2 separate regions of the Homo sapiens genome follow, and region 1 is linked to region 2. The links come from fine-mapping of genetic effects on gene expression. Tissue or cell type: lymphoblastoid cells. Region 2 holds a variant in brackets; the other region holds the start of a gene. All regions are shown on one strand. Distances are from middle to middle.

The links. PIP is the estimated chance that this variant, and not a neighbour inherited with it, causes the effect.
Region 1: LINC01800 starts here. The variant in region 2 is fine-mapped to the expression of LINC01800 in lymphoblastoid cells (TwinsUK, PIP 0.95).

The regions. Positions count from the first base shown.
Region 1 is chr2:64,858,660-64,866,349 of GRCh38, forward strand. It overlaps LINC01800 (long intergenic non-protein coding RNA 1800), which reads right to left and starts at 4,972. Exons shown (of 5, transcript NR_110224.1): 1 at 4,755-4,972. RefSeq lists silencers at 636-930, 968-1,487, 1,247-1,450, 6,959-7,158 and an enhancer at 1,778-1,997.
Region 2 is chr2:64,899,685-64,910,235 of GRCh38, forward strand. LINC02245 (long intergenic non-protein coding RNA 2245) reads right to left here. Exons shown (of 3, transcript NR_036586.1): 2 at 5,307-5,451; 3 at 2,156-4,936. LOC124906172 (small nucleolar RNA U13) reads right to left here and starts at 9,002; the gene lies at 8,903-9,002. It also overlaps the pseudogene RN7SL211P. RefSeq lists a silencer at 4,424-4,618 and an enhancer at 4,811-5,105. The variant C/T (reference allele first, on the strand shown) is at 3,993.

The sequences.
Region 1 (7,690 bases), 42 kb before region 2:
GGACTCCCCAGTCACTTCCTACTGTTGGATTCATCCAGGGTGAGGGCCTGGTGGGGCTGCCAGGCCCTGAAGTCCAAGCTCAGGGAAGCGAGAGCAGTTTACCTCTGTGACATTGCTGGTGTGAGCCAAGGCTGCGGGTTCCAGGAGCTAACTTGGGATTCCGTTCAGGACATGACACAGAAGTGAAGAACTCAGGGAACTTCATATGTCCCCATCACCATAGGTGACCTGTGCCCTGCCATCATGGGGGGTGACGGGAGGCTATGAATGTTAACATAATGCAGACTGACAAAGACATCCTCTTTTGTCTTCCTTCCTCTTTGAGACTAGAATGTATTTTCTGAGCTCTCCTTTGCTTTGCTTTTCTTTTGGGTACCATGACCCAAGGTACAGTATAAATACGTCAGTATTTGTAGCCTGTAGAAGGTCACTCAAGAATGTGCATTTGTAACCATCTGGGGAGAAAATAGGCTTTGTCAGTGAGTGTTTCCTCTGGTACACTTATTACACTCTAGCAAGTATCATGTACGGGAGATGAAACAGGCAGCTGAAAGGTGTCCCGCCTGTGCACCTTCCTGCTGGCCCAGCGTCTATTTCCAGCCTCCTCTCCCAGGGTTGCTGAAACCCGGAGCTGATTTCTACATTGGAAGTTAGGAGCTGCAGGAAACGCCTCGTGCCGTGCCGGGGACGTGGAGGAAAGCCAAGTGCCCTTGATAGGCTCCTCCTCTGGAGCTAGGGAGTTCCCTGGATGGTGGCAGGAGGAGCTGCGGTTCTGCAGCTGCTGCGGGCGGGGCAGCTGCTGGCGGCACTGTGTCTTGGGTTTGACCTTGACCCCTGGGCAACACAGGGAGACTTTCACACCCTTCACCCTTGCATCACTCCACTCAGAGGTGCGCAGGGCCCAGCCCCAGCTACAGATGAGGAGACTGAGGCTCGGAGGCTCTCGGACCGCCCAAGGTCTCTGGGCAGATCAAACGGTGGAGAGAGGCCAGAGCCAAGTGTCTTGGCTCCCGGGCTGGGAGAGGCCCCGGCGTGGCCCTCTGGAGGCCGCCGTCTGCGACTGCCCGGGCGCCCTGGGGCGGCAGCCTGGCCTCCTGGGCTCGAGGCAGGGGGCAGAGGTGTCCCGGCGGGGCCGGGGCCGGGACACGAAGAGGGAGGCGAGCAGGGGCTAGGAACTGGAGCCGGTTTGTGCTCGCGCGCCTGCAGGCCCTTTGCCTCGGGCACCCCCGCTCCAGCCCAGCGGGGGCGGCGCCGAGAGGGGCCCATGGCCCAGACGGAGGCTCGGGCTGCGTCCATTGGCGGCCGCAGCCCCGGGGCGGGAGGGGGAGCGGCCCGGCGTCGGGTTACCGGGGACCAGCACGGCAGCTGGCCCCGGGAGGCAGCCGCGGGGTGAGGGTGCATTCTTGGATTCCTGGCCGGGAAGGGAAACCAAACCGCACTTGTATCCAACGCAATCAACAAACATGATGTGTCAAGTGCTGTATTGCACTTGAGCGGGTGTAAAATGGTAGAGCTGGGGTTCCTGCCCAAACGTTCGTCTAATTGAGGAAATAAGAAATCCACAGAGAAGAAGAACGCTGGAGATACCGGGAAGGACATAATAAACCCCGAGAACCACGACCAACCGAATTTAGAGGGGTTCCTGGAAAGGGAAGTCTGTTTTTCCCCAAAGTCTTCTGGAAAGCTTCCACAACAGGGCGAGGTGAGGGTATCCGACCTGCCACCTCCCTCCAGGGCCTGCCACCTGCCCCAGCCGCCCCCACTCACCACAGCACACATGCCCGACCCCACACTGCTGAGCACCCAGCAGCCAACCCTGCCTCCACCCTGCCTGCGCTCCCCAGTCTTACCCCAGGCCTCTACTCTCAAGCTCCTCCAAAACTAGGACCCTCACTTTCTTCTTCCAGAAGCCCACCTGCCCCCAGGACACTGCTGCCCTATAGCCCTCTCCAGTAGAGGCTCTTTTCTCCCTCCAGCTATGCAGCTCAGGGCCTGAAGATGTACTCCGCATTGATCACTGAAGTTTCTAAACGGTTTCTCCTTCCTCTTTCAAAAGCCCGGCCTCTTAGCACAGCGAAACTACTAGATGTGATACTATAATGGTGGATAAATGTCATAATACATTTGTTCAAACCTACAGAATGTACAACAGCAAAAGTAATGTAAAGTAAGAATAAAGCATTCACATCAATGTAAACTGTGGACTCGGGGTGATAATGTGTCACTTAGGTTCATCAATTGTAACAAATGCTGGTGGGGAATGTTGATAGTGGGGGACACTGCTCCCAGGAGGGTGGATATATAGAACTCTGGATTTTCCACTCAATTTTGCTGTGAATCTGAAACTACTCTAAAAAGTATTAAAAATTAAAAATATTTAATTAAAAAAGCCACAAATCACCCCTCCTAATGTCATCTGTCACCCTCCTAGTCACTTCCCCCAACCCTTGATTATTTTAGTATCAGGCTCTATCTCCTTTCATATCATCATTTTTGGTGACTTCAGCATCTATGCTGATGACCCACCCAACACTCCGATCTCTAAGACTGTTAATATCCTTAGCCCTAGCAGAATATTCCTCCTGCCCTGCCTCAGCCTCCTGGTCATATGCTAGATCTTGGAACCATGAATGTCTACACCATCTCTAAACTCTCAGATCCAGAGATCCCTTCACCTATCAGTCCTCCAGGTCACTTACTTTAGTTCTTGGACTCAGCAATTTTCCCATCTCAGACCTCTATTCCATGACTCTCCTGTTTTCTCATGACATCTCTCCCCTCAGGCCTTCGTTCTCAGCCAGCTGAGAACTGAAACTCCATGCTCCAGCACACAAAATCTCCCTGGCAAACACTCCTACCTTCCTTGCTCTGGTCTCTCTCCATTGTATTCACTGGGCGAAAACCCAGCTGTGGTTAAATCAAACTGTTTACTTCACACCTGCACCTGAGCAATTGAACACCACTAAAGAAAATCGGCCAGCTACTCTGGATGGACTCAATTCAAATTTCTGGCCATAAATTTCAAACAGGCATTTGAACTGTTGGACAATCCTACTACAGTTACTTAGAAAATTCCTTTTCCCTCTCCGCAGTGCAATAATGTCACACTTTCTCCTCTCTCTGCATATTCTCAACTCCCCTTCCTCTTTCATTCTCACTGTAACCTCAGACTATCCTTCATAGAGAAAGTAGGTACGATCTGTTGCCGGATCTTCCTACCTCCCTCCAAAGCCACCAGAATGCCTATAGCTCTGCATTCTCTCCACCCACCACCCATGGCCGAGCCCTCCATCTGTGCCCTGGGCCCCATCCCCTTTTGCCAGCACAATTATCCCCTTTCTGTTGTGTTCATCAATTTCTTCCTTCCTACCAGAGCCTTTCCATGGAAGTTAAATGGGACTTAAAAAGCTCTAAAGCCTTAGCCTCATATCCCCTTCTTGCTATTATACCATGTTTCTGCCCCTCTTTAGAGTGACTGTTCCTGAAAGAGTTGTCTACACACTGACATCTCCACCTCCACACTTCTCATTCTCACTTCCACCCACTCCAACTGGGCTTTTAGCCCTAGTTGTCTGTTTTAATAGCTCTTATCAAGGATGCCAATGACTGACATCTTAAGGTCACATTGGTGGCCAGTTCACCATCCTCTATTCATCTGGCCTGTCAGTGGCACTGAATGCGTTTGACCACTCTCTCTGTGGAAGACTGAATTATGGGTCCTATTTCTTGTCCTGCCTCACTCTATCCCTATCCCCTTCAATCCGACTCTGCAGTCCCTCCCGCTAGATGTAGACTATACTGTACTTTCTTGCCCCTTGACTTTGGGCGTGGCTGCATGACCCCTTTTGGCCAATGGAATGTAGGAGGAGGTGACATGGTGCCAGTTCCAAATCTAGGTCTTTAGAGGCATTTTATGTTTCCACCTGCTTTTTTGTGCCTATTATCACCATGGGAGAAAAATGTGCCCTAGCTGGCCTGCAGGTACAAAAAGAGTGAGGGACATGTATGCAGAGCAGGCTCAGCCCAACGGTGGCTTAGAGCTGCCCAGCCAACATCAGCCTCATCTAGCCAACCTCCAGCTGACTCACAGCTTTGTGAATCAAATAAATATTTACTGTTATGCCATTGAGATTTTTGTGGTTGTTTGTTACCTAGCAATAGCAGACTGATACATCCTCTTTCTCAAAATACTTCCTTTGCTGAGTTCCTTGTAATCACCATCTTCTGGTTTTCCTCCAGTGTCATGGGCTGTCTTCCTCAGTCTGCTCTGCTGGGTTTTCCCCTACCAGATCTCTAAAGGTTGGAGTGGCATCAGTCTCAGCCATCTGCTACCTTCTTTCTTGACTCTCTCCCTAAGTGGAATTATTCTGGCCTACTGCTTTGAAGACTACCTACATGCTGGTTCTCAAATTTAAATCTGAACTCCAGACTCAAAGCTGTCTACACATATTTACCTGATGTCTGATAGGTCTTGGCATGGCCCAAACACAATTATGGATCCACCTCCTACCCCCAACATAGGACTACCCAGTTAGTCCTGGGTCAGATCATCAGTAAGCCTTATCTATTCCCACCTCCAAAACTGACCCAGAAACCAGTATCACATCTCACCATCTCCATAGCCACAACTGTGGTTTTTAAAATCTCCTCCTGCCAGGACTTTTGCAATAGTATCTTAACTGTTTTCTTCACTCCCCACCTTCTAACCCTCCAAAGGCTTCCCACTGCAACAAAATAAAACCCACACTTCTTACCTTGATCCATGAGGACTCAGCTACCTATGTTCCCAAGGCCCCTCTATTCTTCTTGCTCACATTGCTCCAACCACGTTGGCCTTCACGGTGTTTCTTAAGCATAAGGAGCACATTTCTGCCTCAGGGCTTTTGTTTTTACTTGCCTTTCTGCTTGCAGCACTCTTCCCCAGATCACCACATGGCTGCCTCCTTCCCACCCAGAAGGTCTCGAATGCCACCTCCTCAAAGAGACCTTCCCTGGCTAAATAAAACAGCACCCATCAACCTACCACACACACGGATGCACCCACATGCACACACACACACCCCTCTACCACAATACTCTAGTTTAGCTTCCTTTTTTTGTTATTTTTAATTTTCTTTTGCAGAGGCAAAAGAAGACACTTGCTGCCCAGGCTGGTTTTGAGCTCCTGGCCTCAAGTGATCCTCTTGCCTTGGCCTCCCAAAGTCCTGGGATTATAGGCGTGAGCCATGAGTCTACTCTGTTTCTCCCATTAAAATATAAAATCCTTAAGAACAGGTATTTGTCTCAGTCTCTGATGTATTACCAGGGCCTAGAACATGTCTTGTACATAGTGGACTTTCAATAAATGCTTGTTGATTGACTGACTGATGCTAGAACTGAATAGAGAAGGGATACAATTGGCTAGATTGTGAACATGGGAATGAATGTCCCAGGAAGGCAACTGCAGAAAGGCTGGAGAATTCAAGATACAGTATATCCAAGGGGTTATGAGGGGCCAGGCTGGCTACAGGAGAGAATTCATGGGGAATGAGGGAAGAAACTTCTGCATGGTGGAAAGACTTAAATGCCATCACTCCCAGTCATTGGAGATCGTGGGTGCCCCTGAGGGTTACAGATCAAGGACGTGATATGTTGAAAGCACAGGTTTTAGGATGATTAGTAGGGTTGAAAGGTATGCATTTCTGAGTGTCCTTAACTATGTGTCTTCCCTTGGGATCCCAGAATTTTAGAAGACAAAGACATCTAGAAGAATCTGAGAGCCCAGGGGAGCCAGAGAGATTGGTCCCCTTGGATTCCAGATGCAAGAAGAAGCCATTACCCAACCTTTCAGGGACCGATACTGAGTTCCCGGTTCAGGAAGTTCTCCCTGTGTAATTAAGGATTTGCCAAGCGCACAGCCGGCATTCATACACACGTGTTAACGAGCTGGTGCCCCAGTGTCCCTGGGCTCCCTTATACCCTCCCCCGACACACACACACACACACACACACACACACACACACACACACACACACACACAGTTGCTTTCATGTACCCAGTGGCTGAACACAAGCTTCCCCATACCCCCACCCCACGGATGCATCTCTAACCCAGCTACTTGCCTTCCCAGCCCCCTCCACCCAATTCTATTGTCAGGGCTGAACAAAAGGCCCAAGGCATCCTGGGTTAAAGGATTTTTAACTCTGCCAATCCCAGGAGGCTCCAACATGAAGCAGCTTCCTGCTGGAGAAAAGTGACTGAGACATCTCCCCAGGCGACAGGGGAATTTTTTTTTTTTTTAATCTGGTCTGAAAAACAGAACCTAGCCGCCAATCAGACACTCCTCCCCCCAGGACCCCACCCCGGAGACCTCCCAGCAGTCAAATGGGCCTTGAGGTCTCTTTCCTGATGACTTCTATTTGCAGGCGTCAGGCTTGTTGCTTCCCACGTCCCCCCCGACCCCCATCAGACCGGACTCTGGCTCTCCTCTCCTCCCGCACCTCCCCCACCCCGCCCTGTGCCCGGTGGCTGCCCCCGGCGCACGGACAGTGCCCCCTCCGCCTCTCTGCTCCCCGGGAGTGCCGGCAGTGCCCGGGCAAGGCCAGAAGCCCAGGCTAGGCCCCCTCCGTGGGCGCGCCAGGTTCTGTGCCGCGTCGTCCTTCCCCTCCTTGGGCACCGGCTCTGAACCTGCCCGGCCAGAAACCGAACCCGTTTTCAGGAGGAGCGCCTGCGGGCGTGCTGGCTCCACGCGCGGCTCTCGGGGCGGCCGGGTTCGGGCGTGTGCGTTTCCAGGCGCCTCTGTCCCCAGCGGGAGGAGCGGCTGTGGAGGGGGCCTGCTGGCGGCTCACCCCAGGCCCGGAGGGTTCGGGAACTAAACCTGCATCTGGTGTCAAAACCCCTTTTTGCCCACCCTGGCACTGACGTTAAGCATGCATCTTTTTTCCCTGAAGTTTTTTTTCCGTAGAAGACATACTGGGTAAATTAGAAACATGTTTGAGAAAGGAGTGAGCGGCGAACGCTGGCATCTAAACAACACAAAAGTGCCCACGCCAGGCCACACGCCCAGGCGGCCGCGGCCTCGGCGGCGGCGCAGCGCCCCCTGGCGGCCGCGCGGGGCCCCTACCGAGCCGCCCCCGGCCGTGTCCCCTCACCTCCCCTCACCTCCCACGCTCCTGAGCCGGGAGCAGCCGGGAGGGCCAGGGAGACCCCTGCTCCCCCAAGTCAGAGCAACAGTGGGACACTTTGGGAGGAAGGGAATGAAAGGAGTCCAACGCCAAGGTCCTGGGGGATGCTTTCTGTGGTTTCGTGGCTGGCGCCGAAGTCAAGAACCTAGGGAAGGAGCCAACATAAAAGAAAACCCTTGATCCATTTTCAATGAATGCCTGAAATTCTACCAATCCAGCATCATCCCTTCACCTGCAGGCTTTGATTCCTTTTAAAATGCAAATGCCTCAAGGAAGGGGAACCCTTAAAACAAGGGCAGATGGCAGGCTACATCAAGAAATCACCAACGTCACCAAAGAGACATGATTACGCCATGATGTGTACATACTATATGGTAATGGCGTTTAATAAGCAGCGTTTAATCTTTTTTTTATTCCTGTTGTTGGTTGTCCAGGCATCCTTTTGTACTCTGACAAGCAGTGTTTCTTCAGGATGCCCCGCCCGCAGTGGCCAGACCCTCTAGTTCAGTTGCTCCAAGTTTTCTTA
Region 2 (10,551 bases):
ACAAAACCCCTCAGACACCCGGCTACGAAGGATTTGGCTTTATTGGGCTGTGAGCCTCGGCAGACTCGCGTCTCAACGGCGGGGAGTTTTGGCAGACTCGCGTCTCAAGAACCGAGCTCCAGGAAGCCAGAGTTTTAAGGCCTTACAACTCTAAGGGGTTCCATGTGAAAGGGTCGTGATAGATTGAGAGCACATGCGGTTAGAGTCGGGGGTTAATCTTTTAACCTCAGGCCTGGTCATCAGTGGCACTGGCTGGTCTTGCCACTGACTTCATTCCTGTTGTTTTTCAACTTTTACTTCCTCCTTCTCTTCAGAGACAGGAGACAGTAAGAGAAATGGCCTCTCTCCTCATTATGACGTGTAAATATTGCCCAACTTTCTACAAGGGACCCTTCTTCTGGCCCTTCACTGACTCATTAATCCTAAAGGAGGAAAACCCATAATAATTGCTTATTTCTTTCATAGCACTCAGAAAAATCAAGGCCAGGCGCAGAGGCTCGTGCCTGTAATCCCAGCACTTTGGGAGGCCAAGGCAGGTAGATCGCTTGAGCCCAAGAGTTCAAGACCATCCTGGGCAACACAGTGAGACCCTGTCTTTACAAAAAATACAAAAATTAGCTGGGTGTGATGGTGCGTGCCTGTGTTCCCAGCTACTAAGGATGGTGAGGTGGGAGGATCGCTGGAGCCCAGGAGGCGGGGATTGCAGTGAGCCAAGCTCATACCACTGTACTCCAGCCTAGGTGACAGAGTGAGACTCTATCTCAAGAAAAAAAAAACTTAATGAAAAATCAATAAATTAGTTGGCTCAATGAATACAAAATTTGTTTTGTTTTGTTTTTTTCAGATGGAGTCTCACTCTGTCACCCAGGCTGGAGTGCAGTGGCACAATCTCGGCTCACTGCAACCTCTGCCTCCTGGGTTCAAGTGATTCTCCTGCCTCAGCCTCCCAAGTAGCTGGGACTATGGGCGTGTGCCACCACGCCCGGCTAATTTTTGTATTTTTAGTGGAGACAAGGTTTAGCCATGTTTGCCAGGCTAGTCTTGAACCCCTGACCTCAAGTGATCTGCCCGCCTTGGCCTCCCAAAGTGCTGGGATTACAGGCATAAGTCACCACGTCCAGCCCCCAGTGAATACAAAATTCAACAAATGTTAGTCAAAGGCTCTTACGGAAAAGGCTTGTTGCAAGACTGGCGGATGACATGCTAATGCTAGTGTCCTCCTAGAAGATGCACACTTGGCACCATATAGGTCAGTTCCAACCAGAAGTTGATTTCTGGACCCCAGGGGCACTTGTGTTTAGTAGCTTTCTCTATGAAGCCCAGTAACTATGTCCACTGTTATGTAAATCTCTTCCAAACTTTGGGTTCAGTGACTTCACATTGGTAGCCTGAAACTGGCCATGCGATGAGTTATTTACACCACAGGAATTGGCAAACACCATAAATCAGCTCATCACTGCATTGAATTCCTCGAGTTGAGGTGGTGTCTGTAAGTTCAGTCTCACACCACAAGCTGAGGGGCACTCACTGGGTCAGCAGAGATATTTGAGCCTTTAAGGAGTTATAGCACCAGGGGCATTTGCCCCTGCTCTGCTGGACACACGTCCTTGCAACAGTGTCCATTTCCATGTGGCTGTCTTTGGGTATGTCTGACCTGCTAGGAGGTTCTTCTTGCTCCTGTTTCAGCAGTCAGTCCATCTTCCAGACACTGGACAAACCTCTCCGTGGTTTCTCCGTGGCTGGAGTTAGGCTTAGAGTTGAAGCTCACAGGGGCTGAGTCAAGGTGAGAATGAAACAGACACAAAAGCCCAACAAAAGAGGAAAACAATGCATATTTGATAACCGAAAAGGGGGCGGAGATGGGCTTTTTCTTAATTTTTGACTGAAATTATTGGCATGGTTGAATTCATAGTCTTCCTCCCCACCTCCAGCTCTCCTGGCAGAATTCTATAGCCACTAGCACAGTCTCACTTCTTTTCTCTTCAACTGTCCTTATGAGGCTTAGCACACCTTGTAATAAAGACCAGGCAAGAGAAGACCGGGGAAGGGAGAACAGAAAACCAGCTTGCCTAGGAAGCAAAGAACACCATTTGAGGAGGGAGGTGGAGGTGCTAGAGCAGCTATGGGGTACGAGAGAAGTAGATGGAGGAAGACGGGGGATTAAACGCATTGTTTTATTATTCTCTGAATAGGTAATATATGCACATGGTACACAATTACAGAGGTCTCCCACCTCCCCTCATCTGTGCACCCAGCAGCCCCATTTCCTCCCTAGAAATAGCCTATGCCATCAGTTCTTCACATATCTCAGGGATTCCTGAGAATATTCCACCTCAAGGGCTCGCAGGCTTCCCTGGATGAGAATCACCTGGAGGGCCTGTGCAAGGACTGCTACCACCAGCCCCTGGGGGTTCTTTTCTGATTCAAAGGCTCTGGTGAATTTGCCTTTTCTTTTCCTTTCTTTTTTCTTTTCTTTTCTTTCTTTCTTTTTCTTTCTTTCTCTCTTTCTCCTTTCTTTCTTTCTCCCTCTCTCTCTCTCTTCTTTCTTCGGTGGAGTTTCGCTCTTGTTACCCAGGCTGGAGTGCAGTGGTGCAATCTCGGCTCACCGCAACCTCTGCCTCCCGGGTTCAAGCGATTCTCCTGCCTCAGCCTCCCAAGCAGCTGGGATTACAGGCATGCGCCACCACACCTGGCTTTTTGTATTTTTAGTAGAGACAGGGTTTCTCCATGTTGGTCAGGCTGGTCTCAAACTCCCAACCTCAGGTGATCCACCCACCTCGGACTCCCAAAGTGCTAGGGTTACAGGCGTGAGCCACTGCACCCAGCCTGGGAATCTGCATTTCTAACAAGTTCCCAGGTGATGCCGATGCTGCTGGCCCAGGGATTACACTTTGAGAACCACAGTTGTGGAGGTATTCACAGAAACCCTTTCAATACTCTCTCTCTCTCTCTCTGAAGTAATTTGAGTATCTGTGTCTGGCAATGGAAATGCCTCTAAGACAGCATTAATACAGCACAATTCCTTCCTGTGGGCCTTCCCTATGCTGGACTCTTCATCTGGAATACTCTCATCCCTCACCTCCACATGTCCAAGGCCCAGTTCAATGGCCATTTCCTCCAGGAAGTCTTCCTTGGTTCTCTCCCTATACTGCAAGAAGTCTTATGCTCCTTTAAATTTCCATAGGAGTGTTTGTCTGCATTCTTCTAAGGGTACCTGTTATTTATTAGAACAGTATATAAAAAATGGGGCTCTCTTTGCCTCAATTTTTATAATTTTTGTTAAAGAGATATCAGATCCCAAAATAAGTCTGAAGGAGACCATCAAATGTAGTATTTACGTTTCAAGATTCTTGGTCCTCCCTCCCCTGGTCAGCTTGGGGTCTATAGAATGGTTGAGGTAATTTTTGGATGATTTCTTGGGAGAGTGCTATGCTGTAAGCCTACAAGAGGAAAGGAGAAATTAAATGGAGCTGTCACTTCCATACTCCAGAGCCTAGAGAGCCTGGGTTTCAGTGGCCACTTGAGAGCTTGATGAGGGTTCTCTGTAACTGGGGGAATCCGGGGACCAGTTTCTGAGACAGTGGAAGCAGCCTGGGGCCAGGCAGAGAGAGAGGAGGAATTGCCCTCCACCAAAGGCAGAGCAAGGGGAGCGTTGTTGCTTCTTGAGGACCAGTGGAAAGTCTCCAAGGCAGCCATTGTGGGGGCATCTGAAATCCCACCCAATATAGCCGGGCTGGTAGGGGCTGTGTGGTGACCTCAGCTGAAAGGAAGTGTGAGGTGAACTTCACATTCCCATGGCTCCACATGGCAGAGTCCTGGGAATGGTGGACAAGACCCCAGTTTGGGGGATCTCTGAGGAACACCCAAAACACCCATAATCACAAGAGTCACCTTTACTCACCTGCCATCCAGAGGACCTTGAGATTTGGAGACAAGGGCACCACCTTGTGATTTTACCCTTTCTCCTATGGGCAGGAAGCTCATTCACCTGC[C/T]GGTGGGAAAAGGAGGGGTTGGGGGAGAGAGAGTGAGAGAGAAAAGCTACCCCATCTCCCTTCTCAGGTGGCTGGGGAGATGGAAGAACATGTAATGCCACATCAAGTTCAAAGCCTTGATTATGATATAACACTGGGCATTCTCCTGAAAGGAGACAGTGGTTGTAACTCAGAGGGGCAAAGGACTATAAGACTGCTGTTTCCTAAAGGTGGCAAGACAGGGCATAGCCCTGCTGAAGTTTCATCAGGGGCAGGCAAAGTCATTCCTGTTATTGTTATGCACCATGTTTGCTTAAAGTTTCACACACACACTGCATAAGCTTTTTCTTTCCCTCACTATGTCATGAACTCCCTGATATCCTGGCATGTAACACCTCTGTGGCCCTTTTGGTGCCTAGCATGCCTAGCACCATACCTGGCACATACAAGTCTACAGCTGATAGTTGCCCATTTATTCATTGATCCTTGCTTTCAACATGTATTGAGAGCCCATGTTGGGTGGTAGCAAGAGAGCAGGAAATGAAATGCATGTGACTTGTGTTCCAGGAGCTTGCTGTCTGCAGGGGAGGTGTATGAGAAGTGTCTGCAGAGCCTCACCCCACTCCAAGGGGAGCAAATTCAAGCCCACGGGCACCAGGCAGGAGCGTGAATAAGGGAGGCAGTCTCTAACTGCGACACCTTGGGCAAGTCTAAGACGATAAACGTGTTGGCAATTCTGGCAGAACAGGGCATCCACCGTGCCCCTCGGAAGGTGGCAGCTGTTCTTTATTGCCTTCTGAGAATCCAAAACGACTGTTGCCAGATTGCCTGCTTCTCCAAAAGAGTTTGAAATCTGGAGTTGCATGTAAAATGTCACCAAAAAAAACCACATCTGTAGGTTCCTTCAGTCCAAGGGTCACGGTCCGGGGCCACTGTGCTGTTGTTGGCTCTCTCCCCCGGTGTTCCTGTTTATAAAGAGGGGGTGCCAGTCATTGTGAGCCACGTGCTGCTTCTTTAGGAATTAATTAGTCAGGGATTTGGAGCAGCTTTATACAAAGAACTTAGCTGTGTGAAAACACTCCTTGGCCCAAAGAAGAAATATTTTTAAAATCCCAACCCTAAGTGCTTAATCTGCTAAAATGTACAACAAATAAAAATAACGCTTGGAAAAGAGCTTGCTTCCTCTTTCAGAAGAGCCCCTGTGGCCTCTACAGTCTGACTACAGGGAAGGGGCCTTTTCTGCCAGTGGTATGACAACAAGCCACAGACTTACCAAACCAAGTCAGAATTTGAAAGGAACTAGTTGACAGGTGGCATTCACTGCAGCTTTATTACCTGGAAAATAGTTGCGTCCGTTGGAGATGTAGTGACAGCTTCTAGGGCTGATCCCCCATGGTGGGGCTGTCCTTTGAGCTCCTGCTCGGACACTGCTGGGATCCAAAGGCCCAGGAGCCAGACTGTAAATGGAGCTGGAGAAGTCCTAGGAGACAACACAGCAGGCAGCCCAGGACAGTTGGCTACCTGACACATGTCTCCATGTTCTGGGTCCTGTTCTGGGGACAGTCCCAGAGGTAGCAATCTATACAAATATAATGTATGACTGCCTTGAGGTGCAAATAAGGCCATGTTTCTCATTTTTATCATTAACTCCCATCTACCTTTATAAGCAGGAAATCTGATCATCTAAACATCCCTTTAAACCTCCTAAGAATCCTAAGCACTTGGTTCCAGGAAGTCAGTACTGTGTCTGCAGGTCTGATGGAGAGAATGGGGAAGCTCCCCTGACGATTGTTTCAGTGGCTGCCACAAGGTGTTGTTGTTGGAGACTGTTTTTGTGCAGACCTGCACACAGCTGCCCTACACTTTGGGCGGAGGCCCTTGCTGGTGCAGGCAGGTCTTTGCCAGCCCACAGTAGTGCTACATGCCTGGCAGTGTGAAGAAAGTGCAGGGCTGTAGGCCAGCGCTTGTTGCAGCACAAATTGGAATGGGGAGGGGCCGAGGGTGTGTCTAACCTGATTTCTCAGCTGGCCACCCTGAGATATCAGGCAGGCCACCAGAAATTCTGTTTCCATAAAGATCCCATAACTTTCTAGAAGGGCAGCAAAACTTAGACTGGCCTGCACTAAGAGAAGGCAGTGGGCGTGGTTAAGAGCACAGATTTTGAAATCAGATCTACTTTGGCTCAAATTTTGACCCTTTAATAGCTGTGTGATTTGGGGCAAGTTGTTTAATGTTTCTGGGCATCAGCTTCCTTGTCTATAAAATAAGGATAAAAACACCTATTTTATAGTTTGGAGAGCTAAGCCATGTAAAAAGCTCAGCATCGCGTCTAACCATGCCAGATTCACAATGAAAATGGCCACTGTTCGGGTGAAGGAAAAAACTCCACTGTTGCCCTCTGAAGATTTGCTGAAAATTCGACTCACAAAAGACAGATTCAGTGGAGGAAGAACATACACATTTATTTTATTAGAGTTAACGTGATAAGGGAGGCTTTAGGGTGAAGACCCAACCCCCCAGTGGGGTGTAGAGGCTTATATGGTCTAATTCTTTTTTTTTCTCTAACTTGCTTCAGAGGAAGATACCCTTCTTCTCAGGGGAAAGGGCGATGGGGAAGTGTGGATGATTTTAGAGGAGTAGTAAATGATGTTTAGGGGAATTCAATGGGCTTGAAGAACATACAATGGCCTGGGGCAAAGCTTGTTGGGCCCAGAGAATGGACAATGGTTTGTGACAAAAGTCCATCAGGTGTGTGGGCAGACACTAGTCTTTTTTCCTATAATATGGATTCAGTTAATGAAAACTCAGAGAAGGGGCTAAAGGCAATTCTTTTCATCTTTGGTAGGTGCAGACTTTAGGCAGAAAAGGGAGCTTCAGAGAACAGCGTCCTCCTATGCTTTGGGAGAGATGGGTGGGGAAGGGGAGGTCAGAGAGACCTTGAGGCTCCTTTTTCAGTTCAACATGTACAAATGGCCATATTTTGGGGTATTGGTTTTTGAGCCCCGATACCACTCATAGGTGTTTTATTTAGGCATTAATTGTGCCATTGTTTTTAAAAAAACAAAAGGACCTGTTATAATTTGAAAACTGCAGACAATGAATACATTTTAGCTAGAAATTTTGATAAATTGGATATATTGAATAAGGCTTTCAACCTGTTTTATATATTTTTTTAGTTTTTATTTATTTCTTATTATTATTTTTTTTAGAGACAGCGTCTTGCAATGTTGCCCAGGCTGTAGTACAGTAGCTATTCACAGGTGCAATCCCATTACTGATCAACACAGGAGTTTTGACCTGCTCAGTTTCTGACCTGGGCTGGTTCACTCCTCCTTAGGCAACCTGGTGGCACCCCCGCTCCACTTAGTGCAAACACCTAATGGTCACAGTGTGCTACAGCCCAAGGCTTCTGGGCTCCAGCACTGTTCCCGCCTCAGCCTCTCCAGTAGCTATGACTGCAGGTGTGTGCCCACCACACCCAGCTATATTCTTATTTTTAAAGATCAAAATCATAGAACAAATGTTTACTCTCAAGTCCTATTCAGTGATGACCTTGTGTAGTACTTGACATAGAGTTAAGTTGTCACAGTGTCTGGTTTTTAGCTCTTGTGCTCTTAGACAACATAAATGCAGACAGTCATGGAAGGGCTGCCCAGCCCACGCTACCACCTCTGAGCCCTTACATAAGCTCTGTCAGGTTTACCTTCCTGCTCTGGATTGATTTCTCCATAGAGGACCTTGCCTCCTGCTTTGCTGAAAAATCAGAAGCATGAGGCAGGAACTGCCTCAACTTCCTGCTGCCAAATCTCAAGTCTCCTGAATCCAGCTTCCCATTTTGCCCTCCCCTTGTCCAGGTGGCGCAGTCCCTCAAGGCCAGCGCCCCCACACCCTTTCACCTCTTTCCTCCTGCCTTCTCAGGACACTTGCATTAACCATCACTCCAGATCACTCTGTATTTTCAACCTCACTTTTTCCCGGATTCTTCCAATTGGCATCAGACTACGTTCAAAATTCATTAAAGATAAGAAAGTGAAGATCCTTTTATCCACCACTATTAATTAGGAAGCAGGTTTGACTGCTATAAAGTCCCCAAATAATCAAATCCACTTAAAAAGCTTAAACAAGATGAAAGTTTACTTATTTCTCACATAAGCTGGCAGGGCAATACCTTAGTGGCAGGGAGCTCAGCTTCTTAAGGGTCCTCACTCCACCATTCCTAGGGGTGGCCTTGTCTCCACAGTTCATGATAACTCTCACTGCTGTAAGCAGCATCGGGAAAGAGGGATGGGGAGATGGAGAGCCCTTCCACATGAGGGTGTGACTTCCAATCACCTCCCAACAGGCCAGAATTTAGCAACATGGCCATGCTTAGCTGCAAGGAAGGCTGGGGATCAGCCATTATTCTGGTACCCAGTTGATACCGTTTGGATATTTGTCCCTGCCCAAATCTCATGTTGAAATGTAATCCCCAATGCTGGAGGTGGGGCCTGGTGGGAGGTGTTTTGATCATGGGGGTGGATCCCTCGTGAGTGGCTTGGATCATCTCTTTGGTAATAAGCGAGCTCACACTTTAGTTCACATGAGATCTTTTCTTTATAAATTAATGAACCAATTAAACCTCTTTTCTTTATAAATTACCCAGTCTCAAGTATTTCTTTATAGCAATACAAGAATGCCCTAATATACCAGTTAAACACAGAGACTCTATTAATGTACCAGGAGGGAGAATGGGTATAGGGTACAGCAAGCAAGTCTACTCCTGCACACCTTATCCCCCCTAAGAACAGCCCAATCTCAATTTTCTCCTTCTCACCCCAAGTTTTCAAATGAGTTGTCCACATTCATCATCTCTACTTCCTCTCTGTGTTTGTTTTCCACATAGAAGAGAATTTGCAAAAGTGTTTTGAAGCAAGGGAGAATTTTTTTTCTCATGTCAGATGCATAATGTGCTGACATATAACAATGTTTGAGGGAGGCACATCTCATTCATAAGCGTGAAAACCCAGTCATTATGCATAACTGCAAAAGGATCAGAGAGAATATTATACAAGTTCATTCCTTGAAGGTGGGACTAGGGGTGGGTTGAGCTGCTTAAGAAGACCTGGAAGGCGAGGTCCAGGGAGCTAAGTAAAGCCATGGAAGGAGCTGTTGTTGTCCAGGGATGGGCTGAGTCAAGGAGGCACAACCAGGAGGCAACCCATGCTGGGGGCTGAGAGAATTGGATCGTGTGTGAAACTGAAGGAAGGAGAGGACACACGTGGTAGGAAGAGGGGATCAGACAAGTGTGGGGGAGGCAGATGGGAGGCAGTGAAGGTGCCTTTTAAATTCCTGATCTCATGCTTTGTAAATGTGGTGATGGGGGCACCTTTTCACATGGTACCAACCGTGCTTTCCCAGAATGGGGTAGCTCCTTAAAGAAGACATATACACAGAAGGACGAAATTCTTTTTTTTTTTTTTTTTTTTTGAGTCAGAGTCTTGCTCTGTCACCCAGGCTGGAGTGCAATGGCATGATCTCGGCTCACTGCAACCTCCGCCACCCGGGTTCAAGCGATTCTCCTGTCTCAGCCTCCTAAGTAACTGGGATTACAGGTGCCTGCCACTATACCCAGCTAATTTTTTTGTATTTTGAGTAGAGATGAGGTATCACCATGTTGCCCAGGCTGGTCTTGAACTCCTGACCTCAAGTGATCTGCCCGCCTGGGCCTTCCAAAGTGCTGGGATTACAGGTGTGAGCCACTGCACCTGGCCAACAAAATTCTTGTGTGCATTGATTTTTCTCTACTTAGATCTGTTCATACTTATGCTGTTTATTAGGTAACCCACGCTTGGAGCATTGCGGATGAAACTTATGAAATCTTTGAAAACATAGCCTTTTAGATCAATGCAAAGCACACGTTAAGATAAATCTGGGGTCCAGTTGTGGCAGCTCATGCCTATAATCCCAGCACTTTGGGAGGCCGAGGCGGGCGGATCACCTGAGGTCAGGAGATCGAAACCAGCCTGGCTAACATGGTGAAACCCCGTTTCTACTAAAAATACAAAAAATTAGCTAGGCGGGGTGGTGAGTGCCTGTAATACCAACTACTCAGGAGGCTGAGGCAGGAGAATCGCATGAATCCAGGAGGCGGAGGTTGCAGTGGGCCGAGGTTGCACCATTACACTCCAGCCTGGGCAACAAGAGCAAAATTCCATCTCAAAAAAAAGAAAAAAAAAGAGAGAGAGAGATAAATCTGGATAATTTCTGAGTCACACTGCGAGGGATCAAATCCTGGCTTCTATACGATATACGAATTTGCTCTGCAGCTTTGGGCAAGTGACTTCGCCCCTCTGTTCTTAATTTATAAAGTGGAGATAATAAGAATACATTTAGTTCCAGTAAGGTTGTTGAAACTAACATAAAACCCAATCCAAATGGGCTTTAACAGGAAAAGGGAAATTACAGGCTTATGTAATTCAAAAGATCTAATGGTAGCATTCAGGTGTGGTTTGATCAAGACTCCGGTTCAGTTTCTCTGAGATTTCCTTTGACTTTGATCATAGCAGCAAATTGGGTAGGAACGCAGATTCCCCTTTGCACA